3 linked regions of the Homo sapiens genome follow. The protein of the gene in region 1 interacts with the protein of each later gene in a pairwise test. Each region holds a gene or a part of one and is shown in the gene's direction. Other genes may lie near its edges.

The links.
Region 2: the proteins of RAB3IP (region 1) and TRAPPC10 interact in binary tests that used the Homo sapiens proteins (3 or more experiments, as listed by UniProt).
Region 3: the proteins of RAB3IP (region 1) and DNAJB13 interact in binary tests that used the Homo sapiens proteins (3 or more experiments, as listed by UniProt).

The regions. Positions count from the first base shown.
Region 1 is NC_000012.12:69,734,924-69,742,374, forward strand, and holds the start of RAB3IP (rab-3A-interacting protein isoform alpha 1), read left to right. Parts: upstream 1-3,936; 5' UTR 3,937-4,108; intron 4,109-4,457; exon of another isoform or gene 4,458-4,923; coding exon of another isoform or gene 4,924-4,946; intron 4,947-7,451. UniProt on the Homo sapiens protein: Guanine nucleotide exchange factor (GEF) which may activate RAB8A and RAB8B. Promotes the exchange of GDP to GTP, converting inactive GDP-bound Rab proteins into their active GTP-bound form.
Region 2 is NC_000021.9:44,008,092-44,015,574, forward strand, and holds the start of TRAPPC10 (trafficking protein particle complex subunit 10), read left to right. Parts: upstream 1-4,217; 5' UTR 4,218-4,402; coding exon 4,403-4,469; intron 4,470-7,483. UniProt on the Homo sapiens protein: Specific subunit of the TRAPP (transport protein particle) II complex, a highly conserved vesicle tethering complex that functions in late Golgi trafficking as a membrane tether.
Region 3 is NC_000011.10:73,960,715-73,968,291, forward strand, and holds part of DNAJB13 (dnaJ homolog subfamily B member 13), read left to right. Parts: intron 1-793; coding exon of another isoform or gene 794-1,014; exon of another isoform or gene 1,015-1,149; intron 1,150-4,163; coding exon 4,164-4,321; intron 4,322-4,330; exon of another isoform or gene 4,331-4,622; coding exon of another isoform or gene 4,623-4,691; intron 4,692-5,423; coding exon 5,424-5,537; intron 5,538-7,224; coding exon of another isoform or gene 7,225-7,257; exon of another isoform or gene 7,258-7,577. UniProt on the Homo sapiens protein: Functions as part of axonemal radial spoke complexes that play an important part in the motility of sperm and cilia.

The DNA.
Region 1 (7,451 bases):
CTCTCCTTCTCTTCCTTCTTACTGAAAATTATTTACACAGTTGTCACAGAGAAGCTACAAATAAATATTTGTTTGATGGATGGCAATTTGTGTGTGTGATAAACTGGATCTAAAGTCAATTCTCAAAACGTTTTGTTATATATATGTAGCTTGTTAAAGTGATTCTTTTGAAGGGGGGAATCATACTTTTTAGAGTCTAAGCTCTCTCTTAAACCCTTTCTCTCAGCTTTCCAATTTTTCCCAGTCACTTATTCCAACATCAGAAAGGGGGCCTGAAATACAGGATTGTCCATAATTAATATCATGACAGACACTTTTGAGATTGCTCTGCTTTTTTACAGGAGTTGCAAAAGTCAGTTTTTATGAGAACACAAGCACTGGCACTCACTGACTATTTTGGCAGACAAGGAAATGATAGATTAATTACTTTTGGTACATTTTTCCCATAACTGTCTTTTTTTTCCATTTCATTTTTGCATTGTTACTATTTACCAGTCTGAGTTCTCACTTACACCTAGTTTTTGCCCTTCAGGGTTTCTTATATTCTTGCCAACTCTTTGATATGCTTGATAAGATGTTTTATATATATTTATATATATTGCTTTGGGTTTGAGAATCAGCCAGAGCCTCTAGTCTGCCATACTACTGGACACAAAAGTTCAATATGTTTTCACTTCATTCGTTTATAAGATATTAACCTGCATTCCAAACACCAGGGCCCTAACTCTGGTGGCCTAAGCTCCCCATCCACAAAAATGAAGAATAACTACCTTTCCACCTGCATCAAATTGTTTTTTGTACAAGACTCATGTAATCATTAACATGAAGTCAGTTTGCAACTGGAAAATACCATGAAAATACATTTTCTTAACTCTGAAAACAAAACAGAGGCAAACAAGTAATAAAAGTTATAACTAAGGGTAACAACCTTAGAATGGTTTGTTCAATTTACAATGTCTATATATTTGCACTCATCTGCTTTTTTTCTGGCCCAAGGTATAAATGAGAAAGTCTTAAGATAAAAAAAAAGCAATATTATTTTATACGTTATATTTGACACTAATTGTATAATTTACATTTTTAAAAAATAAAGAGAAAAAAATAAAGAGAAAAAGGCAACCTTGAGCACACTATAAAATCTTTCACTCTTTTTTTTTTTTTTTTGAGATGGAGTCTCACTCTTGTCACCCAGGCTGGAGTGCAATGGCGCGATCGGCTCACTGCAACCTCTGCCTCCCGAGTTCAAGTGATTCAAGGTTCAAGTGATTCTCCTGCCTCAGCCTCCCGAGTAGCTGGGATTACAGGTGCCAGCCACCATGCCCGACTAATTTTTTATGTTTTTGGTAGAAATGGGGTTTCACCATGTTGGCCAGACTAGTCTTGAACTCCTGACCTCAGGTGATCTGCCCACCTCAGCCTCCCAAAGTGCTGTGATTACAGGTGTGAGCCACCGCGTGCGGCCTTTTGTTTTGTTCTTTTGAGACAGGGTGTCACTCTGTCGCCCAGGCTGGAGTGCAGTGGCGTGATTTCGGCTCACTGCAGCCTCCGCCTCCCGGGTTCAAGTGATTCTCCCACCTCAGCCTTCCAAGTAGCTGGGACTACAGGTGTGTGCCACCATGCACAGCTGATTTTTTTTTTTTTTTTTGGTAGAGATGGGGATTCACCACGTTGGCCAGGCTGGTCTCGAACTCCTTACCTCAAGGATCTGCCCACCTTGGCTTCCCAAAGTGCTGGGATTACAGGCATGAGCCACCGTGCCCATCCAAATCTTTCACATTTTTAAATTTTGTGAAATAGCTGTCCTTTTTATATATGGGTAAGCTATCAAACTTAAGATGCTCACAGCCCTTTACATACTTTGTAGGCTGAGATTCTGAGTGTCTAATATTCTGTAATGTATCTTGGTCTCTGTGCTGCAAGAACACTGAAGTATTATTATAGGTAACAATCTATATCACTCTTCTCAAACAGCGCTAACAGGTTAAGTATTCAAGAGGAACATCTTTCAGTATATTTCAAAAAGCCTCATGGATGGTAGGTGATTTGTAAATGGACCAACGCAGGACTCAGGCATATATGGTTACTGCTTACTATTTCCTATAGATCATGATGTCTTAGGTCTTATGTAGAATATATCATAGGACTTGTCCTCTAAACATTCACATACCAAGACTGCACTCTGCATGCATGCCATTCACTCATTCTGCATTTACTGAGTCAGTCCTACTGCATGTCAGACCTTGTGCCTGTTCTCAAGAAGCTCGCAGTCCAGGAAAATGGAGAAATACAGATACAATTATAACTCTATGTGATAAGTGTTACAAAGAGATACGGTGTTATGGAAGCCCTGGTAGGGGCACTTAGCCCATACTGGAGTGGCTGGGATAGGGCTGAGTGGCCAACAATAGGGAAGGGTTCACAGTGGAATTGATGTCTAGGCTAAATAATGAATAACAAATAATTAGCAAGGCAAGGAAAAGGTAGGAGATCAAGACATAAAAATAAACAGCATATGGAAATACAGGGTTGTATGTGAGTACGGCAAGACTGGGGAGCCTAAGTGGTTTGCTGTATATTTAATTTATTCATTTCACGTAGCTACTATTGACATACTTGTCTCCCTATATATGTTTGAGTCCGTGGATGGTGGGGACTTTGTAATGGTTTCTCTGTCCCTATGTCTAACAGGAGGCACACAGATGGAGTGCAATAAAATGTCTGATGAATAAATGACCAGCTATGAGGTGTAAGGGAGAATAGGAATCCATTAATGAGAAAGGTCATTTCTAGTGGCAATGAATATCAGATAAGATAGATTTAAGAATTATTTAGAAATTAGGATGAATAAGACTTGGTGATATATTGGCGATGGGGTATAAAATAAGAAACACTGGCTTTCTAGGTTTCTGGATTACAGATGCATGATAATAGTTATAATGGTATAATAACAATAGCTAATATTTATTAGGCACTCTGTGTCATGAAGTACGCAAAGTGTTTACATGAATTAAGCCATTTAAACTCTTAATGACTCAGTGAGGCAGGTTCTGTATACTCATTCACTGATGAGAAAATTGGGGCTAGAGAGATTCATTTGCCTAAGGTCACTCAGCTAGCAGGTGGCAGGCTCAAGCCCAGTAATTCTGACTCCAACAACCATACATATAGTCTACTTTTCTTTACTGCCTCTAATAGATGAGATTAATACCCAGAATGATGGTCCTATTCAATAAGTGTATCACACAAATGCACGTTTCTCTTTTGCTAAACATAGAGACACATACTATGACTACCTCTATTATTATTATTTTTTTTTGATTTTTGGGATCTTGGCTCTTTCTGTATTTTTCCTACCTGGAAGACCTAAAGTGGGGTAGAAGTTTGATAAAACAGTTGGCACAAAAGATGAGAGAAGACAGGTACAGACATGACATTCTCGAACGCTCTGGCAGTTGCTGGAATGATGGGATCTGGGTTCTACAGGATTCCTCCCCTCCCATCTCCCGCCACACACACACACGTCGTAAGGTGTATATGGCCGCGGAGTCTCAGGTTGGTTCTAGGAGTCCTCAACCCACGGCAAAGGTGCCTCTTCTCCCTCCTGGAGAGCCCAACATGCTTGAAGTTAACCTGAGGCCGCCTCTCGGGCCCGGCGAAACAGAGCGCGGGCCCGACGAAACAGAGCGCGGGCCCGACGAAACAGAGCGCAGCTCCGGCTCGCGCTGGTTCCCAGGGAAACCGCCCGCGGAGGAACCTCGGGCCAGGGCCGTGACACCTGCGACGAGCCCCGCCTGGCGCCAGGGGGCGCGGAAGCGCGTCCGCCCCCAGGCCCCATGCCGGGCTCGCCCCGCCCCTGCCGGCCACACCCCCCTACCCCGCCCTCCCTCCGTGAGGACCGGCCGCTCCCGGCTCCCGGCCCCCGGCCCCGCTTCCGGCGCAGGCGCAGTCCCGCGTTCCCTCGGCGGCTGCCGGCGTAGTGAGCCCGCCGCCGTGGAGTGTAGCGGAAAGGGCTCGCCGTCCTCCTCCGTTTCTCGCTGCTTCGGGACGCGCTCTCTGCGGCTCTGTGAGCGCCCCTGAGCGCCGGCAGCGGCCGCGGTGGGTTCTTCAGGTGAGTGCGGCCGCGGGAGGGAGAGGCCCGGAGCGTAGAGCACCGCCCCCCTCGGCGCCCGCGCGCCCGCCTCTGGCGAGTCGGCCAGGAGGGGCGGCCGCGGCAGGTGCAGGTGCTGGCGCCGTGCAGGGCGCGGCACGCGGGGGTTCGGGGGGATGCCCAGGCCCGGTGAGCTCGCTCTCCGCCTGGGCACTTGGGCTCCGGGCCCTTGGGGGCGGCGTGTGGGGGGGACTTTGGCGACCCGGGTCAGCCGGCCGCCCCCTGGGCTGCTGGTGGGCGTCGGGCGGCGGCTCCTCCCCCGGGCACGGGCGCGTTACACATTAACTGCGCGGTCCCGCGCGCCCGGGGCAGGGAGCCCGAGTCCAGCGGGTTACCTGGCGGCGGGCGGGCGCGGCCGGGAGCGGAGGGCCGCGGTCGCGAAGAGGATGAAGAGAGAGTTCCCGAACAAGTCGGAAGCAGCTCACAACACCGGACGCCGCGCGGCAGGGCTGTGGACCTGGGGTGGTTTCGTGTCCCAGTCTTAGGAAACTACGCGCGAGGCACCGTGCTGAGGCGTAGAGGTCACCCTCGGGAGGTTTCGGTGAAACCTGGTGGGAAATTCCGGGCAGGCGCCCGGAGTCGCGCCCAAGTAGGCAGCTCCGTGCCGCCAGACTTGTGTTCGGGGGAGTTGAGACGAACTGCACGGGTGGGATTGCATGGCTCTGCCCTCCCAGCGTTGACAACTCGCCCCGACCGCCCAGGAAGCGCGAGCTTACTGGCTCCAGAAGTGATGATGCTGGGTGGAAGTCGCAGCATGTGAAGAGTTGCCGGTTGTTATGGGATTAAAAAAGATGAAAGGGTAAGGTCTTGAAAGACACGAGCGCTGAGTTAGTTAGTACTGATTACTGAGAGGCAATTTAGTTTCATGGAAATGTTGCCTGTTCGGAGGCTACCTGTTATACACTCTCCTGTTTCACCCCAACTCCTTCCGTTCAGTGTCGGGTTAAAAGCCTTGTAATCTCTTGCAGTGGAATGATTGCATAATTGGAGGAGGGGCCCATAAGAGGATTACAACAAAACTGTTCCATTGTAAATCAGTTGAAAGACCCAGTTCTTGTTCATTATCCTTTTTCTCATTTTGTTGTTCATGAAGGTTTTTTTTTCTTCCAGTGCTGAATGACAAATCAAGGAGAAAAGAGGCAGAATAGGGTTGTAGACCAATCGTAGTAAATATTTGATACTGTTAAATATTTCACCAGTTTTATGGGGCCTTGTTCTGTTATCATTTGTTATTTATTTACTAGTACTGTGCATTTTGATAGGACTTTTCATGTTTGGACAGACAGTGTATTCCAGATGCGGCTTATGTGATCTAATCCTAAAGCCCTTGTGGAATTTATAGAAATAAACAGTTATACAATTAAGTAGTCCATTTTTTAACTATTAAATGAAAAGCCATTGCATTTTTTTCCATTACAGTAATGTTACATATTAATGTATACCTTTGTGAACCAAAGTGTTTGATACAACTCTTCCTTCTGTGTTTGGTAAACAACTCATCTGTGGTACTGAATACTTGTAATCTTTCACCAGGATGGCCATTTAATGTTTAGCTGCTTTGTGGGATTTCTGAATAGATCCTATTGTACTTTTTGAATTAGTGCAGTTATCCATATGTTTCCTTTAATATTCTTTACCTTTGATTTTGTCTAAACTCTCATCCTCCCCCAACACACACATCCTCTACAAATAATTTTTAAAATGGAAAGGTTCTTAGAAATGTTTCACCCCCTCATTTTTTAAATATGGCACGAAAAAATACTTTGTAGATTACAGTAGTTTTATATGCATTATAGTAGTTACTATACTTTTTTCCTCCTCAACAGGAGTCAGTGAACAAATTAGTGAGCTGGCTGAATGAAAAATTATTTAATGTTCAGCTCCATCACTTACTGTGCATAAAACCTTGAGTAAAACATTTAACCTGTTTGAGCTTATTTTCTCCATTTGTCAGTGGAAATACTATTAGGTTGAAATTGCTAATATTCTGCTGTTTTTTATGTTTCAACCTAATATGAACTTCATAATGGTAAGATGAGGATTTAATAACATACTCCATTAGAGATGTGGGGAAGGGGAGAAGGAACCAGTGTGAGCTTGATTGTGTGCAAGGCACTGTGTGTGCTTGTTTTCGATACCTTGACTCCTCAGTCCTCTGGACATTCCCGGGATATAGGTGGTTTATCAAATTTTACAAGTCAGGAAATGGAGGCTTAGAAAGTTGCGATAATTTGTCTATGGTTACTTAGTTGTAGGTGGTCGTACAGCTGGCCAGTGACAGAGCCGGTATTAAAAACTGTATCCGACTGCCCAAAATGGAACGTAGTGCTTTTGTTTCTTACATTCCTGGTCTGCACCTTCTATTAAAGAGCTTTGTAACTATAAGGAGGCACACAGATGACAAGTGTTACCATTTGTATTTCTGGTTTAAAAATATCCAAGTTTTCTGAAGACGGTGATACCAGCATTGCTACTACAGTTACTTTTAAGTCTAGTGCTTATCAAGCGAAGTCCTGGTGTAAGCTTTATACTCATTTACTCTCAGAGTGAGCGAGGAGATAATACTTTATCCCTATTTTGTAGTTGAGAAAATTGAGACCCTGAGACCTTATGTAGTTTGCTCAACGTCACATAGTTAATTAAGTGACAGGTCTAGATTAGATGTCAGACAGTTTGTCTTCCATGTCTGTGCTCTTAACCACTACACTCTGTCATTTCTTCATGTATAAGTGGTAATGCTAAAGAATTGTTTGCTCATAATCACTACATTATCACTTCTTTATGTGTAGCTTATAATGCTGAAGAACTTTGTAATTTAGCTTTTATGAGATACGTAATGTTAATGTAATATGTAATTCTCATTGTGTCACCAGAGATTTTTTTAAATCAAATACTCATTGAGCATCTACTCTGCAAGTCACAGTAGGGGTTAAAGGAAACTGTTCTTAAGGAATATGGAAGGTAGGGCCTTATAATCATTCCCATATCTTTTATAAGTTCTTCAAAATGTAGAACGCACTTTACATATTTTAATGAATGTCAACTAAGACAAAGTGCTAGGATAGTTGAGTAGTGGAGAGGAAGGACAGATGGATAGTGGGTAGAGATATTTGTGCATTGAGGTAATGAGGGAAAGCTTTGAAGATATTCCAAGGGAGTACGCTTTTTCACACTAAACTTTTTTCCGATATAATTCTGATTAAGATGCAGTTCATCAAAGGATAGTAAATTGGTTACTACGCATTTGATATCCTAAAAACAAAATATCTGAGCTTTTGTAAACTGCTTTCTAGCTTGTTTCTCC
Region 2 (7,483 bases), on another chromosome or scaffold:
AATTAGCTGGCATGGTGGTACGTGCCTGTGGTCCCAGCTACTTGGGAGGCTGTAGTGGGAGGATGGCTTGAAGCCAGAAGACTGAGGCTACAGTGAGCCGTGACTGTGCCCCTGCACGCCAGCCTGGGCGACAGAGCAAGACCCTGTCCCCCCACCAAAACATTTTTTTTCTCTTGATCTATTTCACCAGTTTGAGTATGATATGCCTGCATGTAATTTTCTTTGTATGTGTTCTCTTCAGGTTTTGCTGAATTTCTTGATCTGTAAATCAGTATTTTTCACCACGTGTTTGGATTTGGAGCCATCATTTTGCAAAAATGTTTCCTTCCTAGACTCATACTCTCCTTCTGGAGCTCCGATCACACATGCTTTTGGCCATTTCATACTGTCCCATAGGTCTCTGAGGTTCTCTCCACTTTTCTTCAACTTTTTTCTCTTCTTCAGATTAAATAATTTCTATCCATCTGCCTTCAAGATCCCAAACTCCTGTTTTCTCCAATCTGTTAATCCAATTCAGTGAAATTTTCATTTCTGTTATTGTACTTTTCAGTTCTAGACTTTTCTTTTGATTCTTTTAGATACTTTGTTATTCTGCTGTGAATTTCTGATTCTTTACTCATTAAGACAATATTTTCATTTAATCCTTTGGACATATTATTTTTATTTATTTTGAGATGGAGTCTTGCTCTGTCACCCAGGCTGGAGTGCAGTGGCACTATCTTGGCTCACTGTAACCTCCACCTCCCGGATTCAAGCGATTCTCCTGCTTCAGCTTTCCGAGTAGCTGGGGCTACAGGCGTGCGCCACCACACCCAGCTAATTTTTGTGTTTTTAGTAGAGATGGGGTTTCACCATGTTGGCCAGGCTGATCTCAAACTCCTGGGCTCAAGTGATCTGCCCACCTCGGCCTCCCAAATTTCTGGGATTACAGGTGTGAGCCACCGTGCCCAGCCTCCTTTGGACATATGTAGAGCTGCTTTAGAATCTTTGTAAATACAGAATCTGGTTCATTGTAGGGGGATTGGTTTCTGTTAACTGCTTTTTTTTTTTCTTAACTATGGCTTACGTTTTCCTCTTTCTTTGTATGTTTAGTGATTTTTGTTTTTTTAGTGTATATTCAACACTGATAAATAACAAATGAGGGAGACTCAGGGTGCTCTTCCACTGAAAAATCCTGACTTTCGTTCTAGTTTGTAGTTCCATTACTGGACGTACCATGCTGGGCTGTGTAGGCTTAGCTTTAGGCTCTGTTTACTGAGCAATGTCCCAGGTGTCTCCCAGGCCCCTCTTACTTGGCAGGACTTAACCTCCAAACTCTGACCGTCTTGTGGATCGGGTCAGGGTTTTGCTTTAGACGTTGTTAAGGCGGGCCTGGAGTAGTCCTTATTCTAGGGGAGGGACTGGCAACCTCTGGCTCACAAGCCACATGTGTTGATGGCCTGTTTTTGTACAGCACTTAAAGCCAGGAATGGCTTTTATATTTTTAAAGAGTTGTTTAAAAAAAAAAAAAAAACAAGCAAAAATATGAAACAAAAACTGCATGTGGCCCACACAACCTAAAATACTTATCTGGGCCCTTTATAGGTCGTTTGCTGACCCCTGGGAATGTGATTCTCAATCTAGTGTCTCAGCTCAATGTCCTCAGTGTTAATGGCATTAAAAAGGTCTTGACTGGGCACGGTGGCTCGTACTCGTCATCCCAGCACTTTGGGAGGATTAGGCAGGAGGACTGCTTGAGGCCAGGAGTTCAAGACCAGCCTGGGCAACAGAGTGGGACCCTCTCTCTACAAAAAAAGAAAAAATTAGCCGGGCGTGGTGGCACTCACCTGTGGTCCCAACTACTTGGGAGGCTGAGGTGGGAGGATCACTTGAGCCCAGAAGTTCTAGGCTGCACTGAGATAACGATCAAACCACTGCACCCCAGCCTAGGTGACAGAACAAGACTGTCTGAAAAGAAAACAAAACGGAAAGTCCTTTCCTGTAGCACTACTGGACCTCTAGTCTTTGTGCCATCCTCAACTCTGTAACAGCCGCTTCCTGGTAAACCCATAGAGTCGTCCCACACGTGTAGTCCAGCCTAGGCCAAGGACTTTCAGGGAACCCTACATCGACTTCGGCTCCCCACTCTTGCTAAGCTTCTTCCCCTCCAGTGCCCTGCCTTGCCGGCCTGCTGCTTTAGCTGCCCAGAAGTCTGGTCTCTTGCCTCTCACACCATTACAGTGCACCACACTACACTATGTTCACACATTTAGCAGCTGTGTTCACACCCAAACTATCTCATATATACATTTTGTTAAAAAAAACTTCAGGACTCTCTAAACTTATGATGCCAAGGGTGAAGTTAAGCCCTGGAGACTGAGTCAGTAGCAAGTTTGCAATTCTGCTTCTTCGATTACAGTTTAATGCTCTTCCTCCTTGTTCTTGAGCACAAGTGTCTTCCTCATTGTGGCTGCTCTGTAAATCAGGGCTCCCCGACCGCCAGGGCCACAGACACATACCGGTCAGGCCACACAGCAGGAGGTGAGCTTCAGGCCAGGGAGCAAAGCTTCATCTGTATTTACAGCTGCTCCCCATCGCTGGCATTACCGCCTGAGCTCCGCCTCCTGTCAGGTCAGCAGCAGCGCTGGATTCTCCTAGGAGGGTGAACCCTGTTGTGAACTGCACATTGGAGGGGTCTAGGTTGCGTGCTCCTTATGAGAATCTCATCCCTAATGATGTGTCCCTGGCTTCCATCATCCCTAGATGTGACCGTCCAGTTGCAGGAAAACAAGCTCAGGGCTCCCACTGATTCCACATTATGGGAAGTTGTATTTTATTACATATTACAACATAAAAATAATAAAGTGCACAATAAATGAAATGTGTTTGAATCGTCCTGAAACCACCCCAACTTTGTCTGTGGAAAAACTGCATTCTATGAAACTGGTCCCTGGTGCCAAAAAGGTTGGGGACTGCTGCTGTTAATGACTAAGAAAGACCAGGTCTCCCCCTTCCCATTTGGTGATTTTTGTTACAGATTAGCTGTCTCCATTGTCCTGTACCTGACTTAGACCAGACAGCACAGAGACCCCAGGACTGTTTCATCTTCAGTGGGTCCCCAAAGAAAAAGACCACCTCGACTAAACAGACTGTTGTAACTATGCATTAGGCCTTATACAGAAAAGACGCTGAAATTCGGTTAGGCTTCCCGAGACGCTGGCTATAGAAACGACCCCAAATTTCTACGTTTGAGAACACTGACTTCCATTCTTTATAATGTTTCCTGGGCGCCTCAAGCTTCGCATTTGACTAAACTCTAGATTCTGACCCTTTTGATTATTTTTGGTTGACAGTTTTTGTCATTTTATGGCTGGGAGTGATGGCTCACACCTGTAATCTCAACACTTTGGGAGGCCAAGGCTGGAGGATCACTTGAGCCCAGGAGTTTGAAACCAGCCTGGAAAACATAGTGAGATCCCGACAAAAGAAAAGAAAAGAAAAAAATTAGCTGGGCGTGGTGGCTGCCCCCGTGGTCCCAGTTACTGGCGGAGGGGGTGGGGCGGGGGGAAACAAGGCGGGAGGATCGCTTGAGCCTGGAAGGTGGAGGCTGCAGTGAGCCGTGTCCCGCCACTGCACTCCAGCCTGAGCCAACTGAGGAAGACCCTGCTCCAAAGAAAAAAAGAAAAAGAAACACCCGCGCCCCGCCCCCCCCGTTTACGTGCACAAGAAGCCCATATGCAGTTAAGTGTGAGGTTTATTTTGTGGCATTCCGAAATGCCGAGGGCCAGGTCCCCACAAAAACATTTGCGGCGTGAGGGAAACGGGAAGAGCCCAGCGGTAGGCGGAAGGCACGCGCCGGGGACACTCAGCGGCGAGGGCCTGCGGGAGCCCCCAGCGCGATAAGGAGCCCGGCCGGGGAGCAGCGGCCCGCCGCGGGACGCCCGAGCTGCGGGGAACGCGAGGGCAGCGAGGCCGGCGTCTCTGGTCCGGGAGCGTCCAGGCTCGCTCACCGCGCGCGAGGCCCGCCTGCCGAGTCCTGGCCTCAGCTCCGGCGCAGGGCCCAGCGGGGCGCCCACTGCCGAGGGAGGAAGATGGACGTGTCCCGGGAGCCCCGCTCCGCCTCCCACTTCCCACCTCCCGGTCCCGCGCGGCCGGCCCGGGCGCACTTCCGTCGGAGGCGAAGCGCGGCGAAGACCCGCCCCGTGAAGCCTCGCGCGCCCCGGAAATGGTCATGCGGCGGCGCCGAGGCCGGAAGTGGCTGAGGCCGGCAGCAGCGGGCGGCAGCTGCGGCGCAACCGGCTCCGGAGCTGCCTGGCGCGGCCGGGCGGGCGGCGCCGCTCAGGCTCGGGCTCCGGCTGGGCCCGGCGCGGCCTCGGGGCTGCCCATGGGGCGCGGGGGGCCGGGCCGGTGACGCCGGACGCCCATGGACGCCTCTGAGGAGCCGCTGCCGCCGGTGATCTACACCATGGAGAACAAGCCCATCGTCACCTGTGAGTGCCCGGAGGCGGGGAGGGCGCGGCGGTCGTTGGGCGGGCCCGGGCCCTGGCGTTATGCACCCGGCGCCCCCAGACCTTCAGCCCCCGGCGCGCTCCGGGCTGGGCCGCTTCCTGGAGGTGTGACCAGGGCTGCGGCTGAGGCGGGGCCCTCTGACTTTTCGGGGACGCCCTCTGACCTTCCCGCCGGGCGACCTCTGACCCCTGGGGGGCGCCCTCGGGCCGGCTGCAGTTGGAGCCGGTGGAACCCGGCGGACTCTGCCCGGGACTGGGCGCGCGCCGGCGTCGAGGGCGAGGAGCGGGGGCTGCCACCGCCCCGTCCCGCCCCCGTTGAGCCGCGCGCCCGGGACCTGGGGGCCCCGGCCTCTTCCGCCGGGCGGTTTTGCCCGCGGGCGCCCTTTCCCCGACTACGGGGAAGTCCTTGGGGGCTCGCAGAGTTGCAGGCGTTGGCGAAGTAGGAACAGTTTGTTGCGGGGTGAAGCGTCAGGCAGAGCCGCCGGGACTGCTTTCGCTCCTACACACTTCCCCGCCGCGCACTCAAACCATTTTACGGATGAGAAAGCCGAGGCTCGGGCGCTTAGGCGAGCTTGCTCCCCATGAACAGCCTCCCGCTCGAGTCTACACTACGGACACCTGGTGCCTCTTGGGTGTCGTGTCCTCCCCGCACCCCTCCTTTAATGCATACACAAAGGAACTGTTTTTCTGTTACGGGAAAAATGTTCCCTAAATTTTAGAAGTGTGACTCTCCAGAGTTAAATACGGTTAAGAACAGTGAGCTTATGGGAAGTATTGAAATGTTTGTTGGTTGGCTTTTAGGTGACTTGCAGAGAGGTGTTTCAGACTGTTACGATTTTTGACCTTTGACAGTATTCTGTATTTTCATGCATGTATGCAGTTAGTTTTTTTCTAGTTGTCTTTCGTGCTTGGAAAGGAAGCACTCTCTGTTGCAAAATCTGGGTGCCCAGGCCACAGTAGACTGTATGTCGTGAGAACTCCTGTTTCCCTCTCACTCTGTCAGCGGGTGTGCACCTGCTGTGTTCCTTCCTGTTAGATCCCTGAGAAACTGTATATTGAAGGTTGAATTTTGTTGCTTCAGCTTTAGGTGATAGACTTATTTCTTTCCTTCCTTTTGCTTTATTTTGTCTCTTCTCCTCTCCTCCTCTCTCTTTTTTTTCTACAGAGACCTAGACGAGATGATAGACTTTTCTTAGGGAAGTGGACTGTGTCTCATTTAAAATTGGAGACTTGCATAGTTCAGCAGTAGCTGTCTTTTTTCCTCCCCAGAATATTTGTCAGCTGAAAGTCTTTTCCTACTCTGCACCTTCAGCCCCAGAGGGCAGATGTGGGTAGAGCTGGTCTGCAGGCCCTGCAATTTCCCAGGGGCTTTCCCAGTGCTCAGGGAAGATGAAGCCATGCGCAGTTCATGTTAAGTTTTACTGTCTTCCAGAGGTTGAACATTTTTCTCCTAAAGTGCTGTGCACGTTGTGAATGCTGGATACACATTCATTGCCTGTACGGACATCCACACATCTAATTTTATCTTCTACCTCCTAGCTTGCTTACATTTCAATAGCAATATGTATTTATAGGCATTATGTAAATACATTTCTGAGGAGAAAGTTCCTAAGCTCTATTGGATTCAACCATAACTAAAGGGGTAAAGTTTGTTATCTGGTTGCCAGTGTTGGAGATATTTAATGTTTAGTTTTGTACATGCGTGCATCACGGACAGCTGAAGGATGCGGTTTTCTTTCCTACAGATTTATTGGATTGTCATCTTGGTGGTGGGTTTTTTCCTGTGTTTTGAGCAGCAGAGTGAATTTTTTTTTTTCCTTCTTCTTCTTTTTTGAGACGGCGTCTTTCTCTGTCGCCCAGGCTGGAGTGCAGTGGCATGATCTCGGCCATGATCTTGGCTCACTGCAACCTCTGCCTCCCGGGTTCAAGCGATTCTCCTTCCTCGGCCTCCCGAGTAGCTGGGATTACAGGCGCATGCTGCCATGCCCGGCTAATTTTTTGTTTGTTTGTTTTTGTTTTTTTTTTTTTTCAGTAGAGACAGAGTTTCACCATGTTGGTGAGGCTGGTCTCGAACTCCTGACCTTGGGTTGTCCACCTGCGCAGCCTCCCGAAGTGCTGGGATTACAGGCTTGAGCCCCCACCCTTGGCCTCAAGCAACATAGTGAATGTTAATCTCTGCATGGATGGTACACTGTCCTAGAAGGTGCAAACTTTCATTCATTGGAGTCTCAGAAGAGAAGGGGGCTTCAGTAGACTGTCAAAGTTAACTTGAAAAATGATCACTTTAAAAGTGAAGGTAAAAAGCTGACTTCATACTTCCCACTTGAAATTATGTTGTGGTATATCTGGGACTGAAGCTTTAGGAAGCACTTGGCCTGGTTTCACTTTATGCCTTCATCTTGCTCCTCTCTTTCAGCTATACATGTTTTGAAAGGAGAAGGTGGTATGAACAATTGCTTTAAAAAAATCCACCCAGAGGCTAATTAACCCTTAACTTTTTAATATTATGTACATAGTTCTCTTAGTAGGCAACATTTTTGTTTTCAAAAATCTTTTAAATTCTTACTTGAAATGGTATTACCTCAGATCTGTTCATTTTAAAATGAAAGTAGAGTTTATGCATGTTGTGAATTTTTTTTCCATAGAATGTATAATATTTTACTTCAGTGAAAATGCATTCTGCTTAGACCTTTCTGGGAAGAATATAGAATGTAACTGGTTCAGGTGAATTTAAAAACTGTGTATATGTAGGGATAGAAGAATGAAAAGTTCCCAAAGATTAAGGGTAATTAGAATAGATTATTACTTTAAAACCTAGCTGATTATTTCACTTCATTTTATTATTATTATTTTTTTAGAGATGGGGTCTCGCTCTGTCACCTAGGCTAGAGTGCAGTGGCATGGTCATAGCCGACTGCAGCCTTGCTGGGCTCAAGTGACCCCTCCCTTAGCCTGCCAAGTAGCCAGCACTACAGGTATGACCCACCTCACCTGGC
Region 3 (7,577 bases), on another chromosome or scaffold:
TGAGCTGTATTTATTTTTACAGAAGCCTTTTATTAAGGAAATAGGGCCAAATTTTACACAATGATTTTTTTTTTCACTTAATATATCTTGGAGATTATCTTATATGTTATACTATATATAGATCTACTTTATTCACTTACATGCAAATCTATATACTATGTACAGATCTGCATAAGATTTCATTGTACAGATGTCTATTAGGGATCCATTGCAGAAGCAAATACTGTTTTAGCCACGTGAAGCAGAAAGGGGTTCAAAACAGGGAATTAGGTGCTTTAAAAAATCACCGAGGCCAGGTGTGGTGGCTCACTCCTATAATCCCAGCACTTTGGGAGGCTGAGGTGGCTGGATTGCTTGAGTGTAGGAATTCGGTGCCAACCTGGGCAACATAGCCAAACCCCATCTCTACAAAAAAATGTGCCAGGAATGGTGGTGTGTATCTGTAGTTCCAGCTACTCAGGAGGCTGAGGTGGGAGAATCGCCTGAGCCCAGGAGGTTGAGGCTGCAGTGAGCCAAGATCGGGCCACTGCACTCCAGCCTGGGTGACAGATTGAGACCTTGTCTCAAAAAAATAAAATACATAAATAAAGAAATAATCATTGAAAGGCCTGGGTGAGAAGGCTGTAAGCTGGCCCTGTAGGAAATCTTCCAAGAACACCACCTCTAAACTGGCCCACAAGGAGAGCTGCTGTCTCTGCCACAGTCACAAAGAAGGAATCAGGAAATGTCACCGTTGCATTCCAGAGCACACCATGAATGTAGCTGCAACTGCTGCCTCACTTGCCTCTGACAGGCATGAAACTCGTGGGTGGACCCACAAAGGCTGCTGCAGAAAAACCTAGTGTCTCCACAACAGTGCCCACCAGCTCCAGACAGAGCCACGGAGAGATGCCTGCCGCCTTCTTCCTGCCTCCCAAGCAGCTCAGGAACTACCTGATGAACAGAATTCAAAGCCAGAACCTTAGCTGCAAGAGAGTCTGGGGGATGTTCCTTTTGGCTCTACAGATTCTCTAGCAGGGAAGGTATGCAAGAAGGAGGACAGAGCAGATGCCAAGTGCCAGCATGGCTACCATGGATGTTTTATAATTTATTATTATTAAAGTCTTGCTCTGTTGCCCAGGCTGGAGTGCAGTGGCACAATCTTGGCTCACTGCAACCTCTGCCTCCTGGGTTCAAGCGATTCTCCTGCCTCAGCCACCCGAGTAGCTGGGATTACAGGTGGGCACCAGAATGCCTGGCTAATTTTTGTATTTTGAGTAGAGATGGGGTTTCCACTCAAGACTGGCCAGGCTGGTTTTGAACTCCTGACCTCAGGTGATCCGCCTGCGTCATCCTCCCAAAGTGCTGGGATTATAGGCATGAGCCACCATGCCAGGTCTAATTTATTATTTTTAATTACTGTCTTATTGATGGGTAGTTTCTTCCCAGTCTTTTGCTAATATTGTATTTGTGGGAAGATACCTCTTGTCTCTTTTGCAGTTAAAACAGTTCTTGTGCTATTTATAGTTTCCCTAATATGCTTGTCTCCCTACCAGACTGGGAGATCCTCCAGGTCTGATTGATCTCAGCGTAGCCAAATCCCAGCCTAGCATCTGACAAGAGTGAGTGTGGATGGGTGGATGCATGAAATGAAGGAAGGACAGATGGATGAATGGATGAGTGGGTGTATGAATGAATAGACGAGCACATGGTGGGTGGGTGGGTGGGTAGGCGGACGGATGGCTGGGTAAATGAATGGATGGCTGGGTAGGCGGATGGATGGCTGGGTAGGCGGAAGGATGGCTGAGTAGGTGGATGGGTGCGTGATTCCAGGTCTGAGACAAACTGACCAAGAGTTGATTTCTGAGGCTCAGAATCATCTTGCAAAGGCAGTGAAAAGACCTTCACACCTGACTTCCTGGCTCCAGTTATACCCACATAAGGCCTAGATTTTTCACTGCCTGTTTTCTCCTACACCTCTTGCCCCTTCTCCCTGACTATACTTCAGCCTTTCTGAACTTCATAAGTTCTTTCCTTCTCTTTTCTGTGCCAATATGTGGGTTACAGCCCCTCTGCCTCAGAGATTGCTCCCACCTTGTGCCACCCTCACGTGTCTGCCAGAAGAAGCTGAGTTTATAAGCTCCACGTGAGACTGAAAACAGCAAGGGGCTTCGAGTAGCGGGCCTGTTTCCAATCCATGCGCTGCCATTTGTGAACCGTGTGATCCTGGGAAAATTTCTTCACCCCTCTGAAACCCCAGCTTCCTAACCATTACATAGCCAAAATAATCATTAAGGCTCAAGGGCTATTATCAGATGAGATAATGTTTATGAAAAGGGGCTTTGCAATCGGCCGGGCATGGTGGCTCACACCTGTAATCCCAGCACTTCAGGAGGCTGAGGCCGGCGGATCACTTGAGGTCGGCAGTTCAAGACCAGCCTGACCACCATGGAGAAAACCCATCTCTACTAAAAACAAACAAACAAACAAAAACAAAAAAACAAAGCCAGGCACAGTGGTGCATGCCTGCAATCCCAGCCACTTAGGAGGCTGAGGTAGGAGAATCGCTTGAACCGAGGAGGTGGAGGTTGTGGTGAGCCGAGATTGCGCCATTGCACTCCAGCCTGGGCAACAAGATTGAGACTCTGTCTCAAAAAAAAAAAAGAAAAAAGAAAAAAAATGAAAGGGGCTTTGCAGTCCAAAAATGCCATACAGTGGACCTTGCCTCCCTACCTGTCTCAGTTCAAAGGAGCCAAGTGAGTCTACAGGGCATCGCTCATTGGGAAAGGTCAGGCTCAGGGTCTGGGCTTCCTCAGGCAGTGCCCAGAAGCTATACTGCCATAGTGCTCCACCCCAAGGGTTCCTGAGTCCCATCTCCCTGCAGGGTTGAGGGGCTGGGCTTCCTGTGGACTGGCTATTGGGGTGTTTACTGCCTGGTACACTGTAGGTCTGGGTGAACAAGTGAATTCAGCAATGCAACAGGAGGACCAGAAGATTCAGGCCTCTTGATTGCCCATCGCATCTTAGAGGGACATAGTGTAGTCACCTCACCATCCCTGCCTAAGGTCATTTCACCATTCTAGCCTGTGAAGTTCATTCCATGGCATTAACCATGAGAGGCAGAATATGAAAACTCTTAACCATAGCGCCCCTCGAGTTTACAGCTTATGAGGGGCTTCCACATCTAGCGATGCGGCGTGGCACAGTGGTTAAGGACACAGGTTCCGTAGTCATATTGTCCTGTGGTTCAGATCCCAACTCTACTGCTTACTAGCTACGGGACCTTAAGCGTTTTGTTTGGGCTCCCTGGACCAATGAAATAATAATGTAAGGTTCCAAAAATAGCACCTGACGCATAGTAAGCTCTCAGCAAGTTTTAGCTCTTCATCTTAATGGTGGAAGGCAGGTCAGGCATTATTACCCCATCCCACAGACCAAGACACTGAAGCCCACGGATCACACAGCACATCAGGGGCAGAGCCAGGATGGGGCTGTCTTTGCACTGGGAGGAAGGATGGGGGCAGCAAGAGGGGTTATGGGTGCAGAGCTGGGCAGGGGCAAAAGAAATTGAGGAAAGAGGAGTTTGGGGAATGCCGGTGGCCTCTCAAATTGTTAGGGACCAACCCTTTCCCTCCCCCATCTCAGCTGACAGCTTTATAGAAACTTGAGTCTGGGGTCTTTAGCAATCTTGGGCTGGGCTGGACAGCGAAGGGTTATGGAGTCTGGGGAAGAGTAGAGAGGACTGGCAGGCTCTCACCTTCCTGCCGAGGACTACCAGCAGTCTCTTCTGGCACTCCTGAGCGCGGCCACCAGAGGGAGTGCCTCCCTTTCCTGAGACAGCCAGAGTTACGGTATCCGAGTTGTGAATAAGAGAGACGGGGAAGCGTTGGGCGGGGTGGGGGGGGAATGTCCCAAGGGGAGGTGAAGCAGTGGGAAATGGCAAAGGATGATAATCACTGCATCTGCAGTTGAAGACAGCTCCTTGGCTTGGCCAGTCTGAGAGGTGGTTATAGGATGCTGGGTGTTACACAGGACACTGAAGAGGTTGGGGAGCATATCTGGATAGGGAGGCTGTGTGTGTGTGTGTGTGTGTGTGTGTGTGTGTGTGTGTGTGTGTGTGCGCGCGCGCGCATGTCTGGGTCTCTGGATACAATTTCTCTTACTCCTCTCCCTACCTCCTGCAGAGTTTTTTGATGCAGAAGGAAGTGAGGTAGATTTGAACTTTGGGGGGCTCCAGGGCCGAGGGGTCAAGAAGCAGGACCCCCAAGTCGAACGGGATCTCTACCTGTCCCTGGAGGACTTATTCTTTGGCTGCACCAAAAAAATTAAGATCTCCAGAAGGGTGAGTACTCAGCTTGCTCCTCCCGGGAGCCACCTATCTCCTGCAGCCTAGCAGCTGCCTCCTCCCTTACCTGGGTGGGAGGACTCAGGGATGGTCTCTGATGGAATTATGGAACCTTAGATTCAGAGACCTAGGATGTTAGAATTCCGGAATCTGAAATTCGGAAGGGACAGTTGAAGACATTAGCCCGGTTCTTTCCTAGTGCAGGAGTGCCCTCTGCAGCCTTCCCAACTGGGACAGGCTCTTTCCCTTCCTTTCTTTCAGTTCAGCCCCATCCCCGTGGGAACTGGAAAGGCTCTGAATGGGAGGAGTCTCTTCTGAATTCTTCCTTCTGGGCTTTACCAGACCATATTCCCAGGATTTCATCAGGGTGCATGCCTCGTGCATAAGAAAGAACAGTGGGCATGGAGGGTGGGCTGGGAGATAGTCCCCAAGGTGACGGGTTGAGGAAGACCCTCAGTGCCTCATGTCTAGTCCTTGGCTTGGCCCTGTCCCATGGCCCAGCCCTGTGCCAGGCATAAGAGCAAGCCCCCTCCACCTTTGCCCAGCAGAGGAGATGCCGATGCGGCCATGCTTTCCACAGATGGAACCCATCTGGACATGCGACTGGGGAGTGGAAGGATCCCCAGTGGGGAATGCACTGGGGGAGGCTTAGATATGTTGACTTTCATTTCTCTCTTTGGGATTAAGAGACTTGCTGGAGGCTCAGGGCCGGGCCTCTGGGATTTGGAGAGAGGAATGGAGTACATTTTCACCATGTATCTGTTAGTGGCCAGGGCTGGAGCTGTGTGTTTGATCAACTAATGGTGACTGCTTGGCATCTCAGCCCCCAGCCCCAGTCTCATGGCATCCTCTGCCATACTGGAATCATAAGTTCTTGGTTGTCATGGCAACAGGATGGGAGTGGGAGTGGCTCAGGGCAGGCTCTCCCCATTGCTGGAGGCTCTTCCCATTGCTAGAGGATTGAGCCCAAGTACAAATCCCATAGAGCATCTTTCACGTGTGCAAAGGTCACCTGAGTGTTCATGAAAATCTGAGCAAATCTCGACTGTACTCATGGAAGTCCTAAGCAGACCTCCCCACACCTGATATGTTGCTATAGGTGCTGAACGAGGATGGGTACTCCTCCACCATCAAGGACAAGATCCTGACCATTGATGTGAAGCCCGGTTGGAGGCAGGGCACACGCATCACCTTTGAGAAGGAAGGGGACCAGGTGAGGGGGGAAGAAGCTGACTCAGGTCAGTCACTGAGCTCAGGCGGTGGGAAGACTGAGGAGGAAAGGAAGGGAAAGGAGGCAATACTTTTTCCTGCCCCTGTGAGCCTTGGTCTGTAGAGAGCCCAGTCTGCAGAGTGGGTGAGATGGGATCCCTAATGTTCCTTCCAAGGAACAGAGCCTTAGCCTTACAGTGCTTCTGTGAACAGGCAGCCCAGGGACTGTCCCCATTTTACAGAGTGGGAAATGGGGGCCCAGAGAAGAAAGGGACTTGCCCAGGGCAAGAACATGGGAGCTGAAAGGAGATCCCAGTCTGAACTCCAGTGTTTTCCTGATTTTCTTCAGTGCTTCTCAGAATAAAGCCCAATTACAGGAGCTACTCAGAAACCATTTAATCATAATAATTTTATTTATTTATGTATTTATTTATTTATTTATTTTTATTTTGAGATGGAGTCTCACTGTCGCCCAGGCTGGAGTGAGGTGGCATGATTTCAGCTCATTGCAGCCTCCACCTCCTGGATTCAAGCAATTATCCTGCCCCAGCCTCCTGAGTAGCTGGGACTACAGGCATGTGCCACCACGCCCAGCTAATTTTTTTTTTTTTTTTTTTTTTTTTGAGACAGAGTCTCGCTCTGTTACCCAGGCTGGAAGGCAGTGGTGCGATCTCAGCTCACTGCAAACTCCGCCTCCCGGGTTCAAGTTATTCTGCTGCCTCAGCTTCCCCAGTAGCTGGGATTGCAGGCATGCACCACCACACCCGACTAATTTTTGTATTTTTAGTAGAGACGGGGTTTCACCATGTTGGCCAGGCTGGTCTTGAACTCCTGACCTCAGGTGATCCACCTGTCTCGGCCTCCCAAAGTGCTGGGATTACAGGCGTGAGCCACTGCGCCCAGCCACCCAGCTAATTTTTGTATTTTTATAGAGATAGGGTTTCTCCGTGTTGGCCAGACTGGCCTCGAAATCCTGACCTCAGGTGATACGCCTGCCTCGGCCTCCCAAAGTGCCTGGGATTAAAGGTGTGAGCCACCGTGCCTGGCCTATTAATAATAATTTTAAATTAAATACTATTTAAATAAAAACATAAATTTATTGTCCAAGGCGTGCTGAATCCTTAAGTCCTGAGAAGAGGCATTCAGAGCCAGGGAAGACACATTCCTTTGCCTGCACTTTTTGCCCCCTTTCTCACCTATGAAACATCTACCTCCGGTCTGGCCTGGTGGCTCACACTTATAGCCTCAGCACTTTGGGAGGCCAAGGCAGGAGAATCACTTGAGCTCAGAAGTTTGAGACCAGTCTGGGCAACATAGCGAGACCTTGTCTCTACTAAAAATAAAAAATTTAGCTGGGCATGGTAGTGTGTGCCTGTGGTCCCAGATACTCAGGAGACTGAGGCAGGAGGATCTTTTGAGCCGAGGAGGTCAAGGCTGCAGTGAAGTATGATCATGCCACTGCACTTCAGCCTGGGCAACAGAGCGAGATCCTGTCTAAAAACAAAACAAACAGACAAAATACAAATAAAACATCTACTTCGAATAAACACGCTTCAAAACCCAGCTCCAGTGTTCCCCGCTCTGGGCAGCCTCCTCTGAGCCCCAGCCTCTGGGCCTCCCTTTATCATGTCTTGAGCGTGCTGAGGATTCACTGTCAGTGTTAGGGGCCAGTCTGATTCCTCTGTCCCCAGCGCCCAGAAGAGACCTCAGCAGAGTTTTGGTGACTTAATGAAGTTTGGGACAGGGGTGTCATGCCTGGAGTTACTAGCAAGACAGAGACATACGGGCAGTTGCCTGACGCCCAGCTTAGTGTTCCACCTGCCTGCCGTCTGAGGAAGCCTCTCCGCCCCTCCAGCTGAGTGTGTCTATTTTGGGCATGCTCAGTACAGAAGTAATTCTGGGGGGATTCATTTGGGTAAGCTTCTCGGGCTTCTAATCCATCTGGGCTATGGGGGCCAAACTGAAAAGGCCCTTCCAGAAAACCTGCTCTCATCTCCCCATTGTACAGATGAAGACATGGAGACAAGTAGAGGCAGGAACTTGG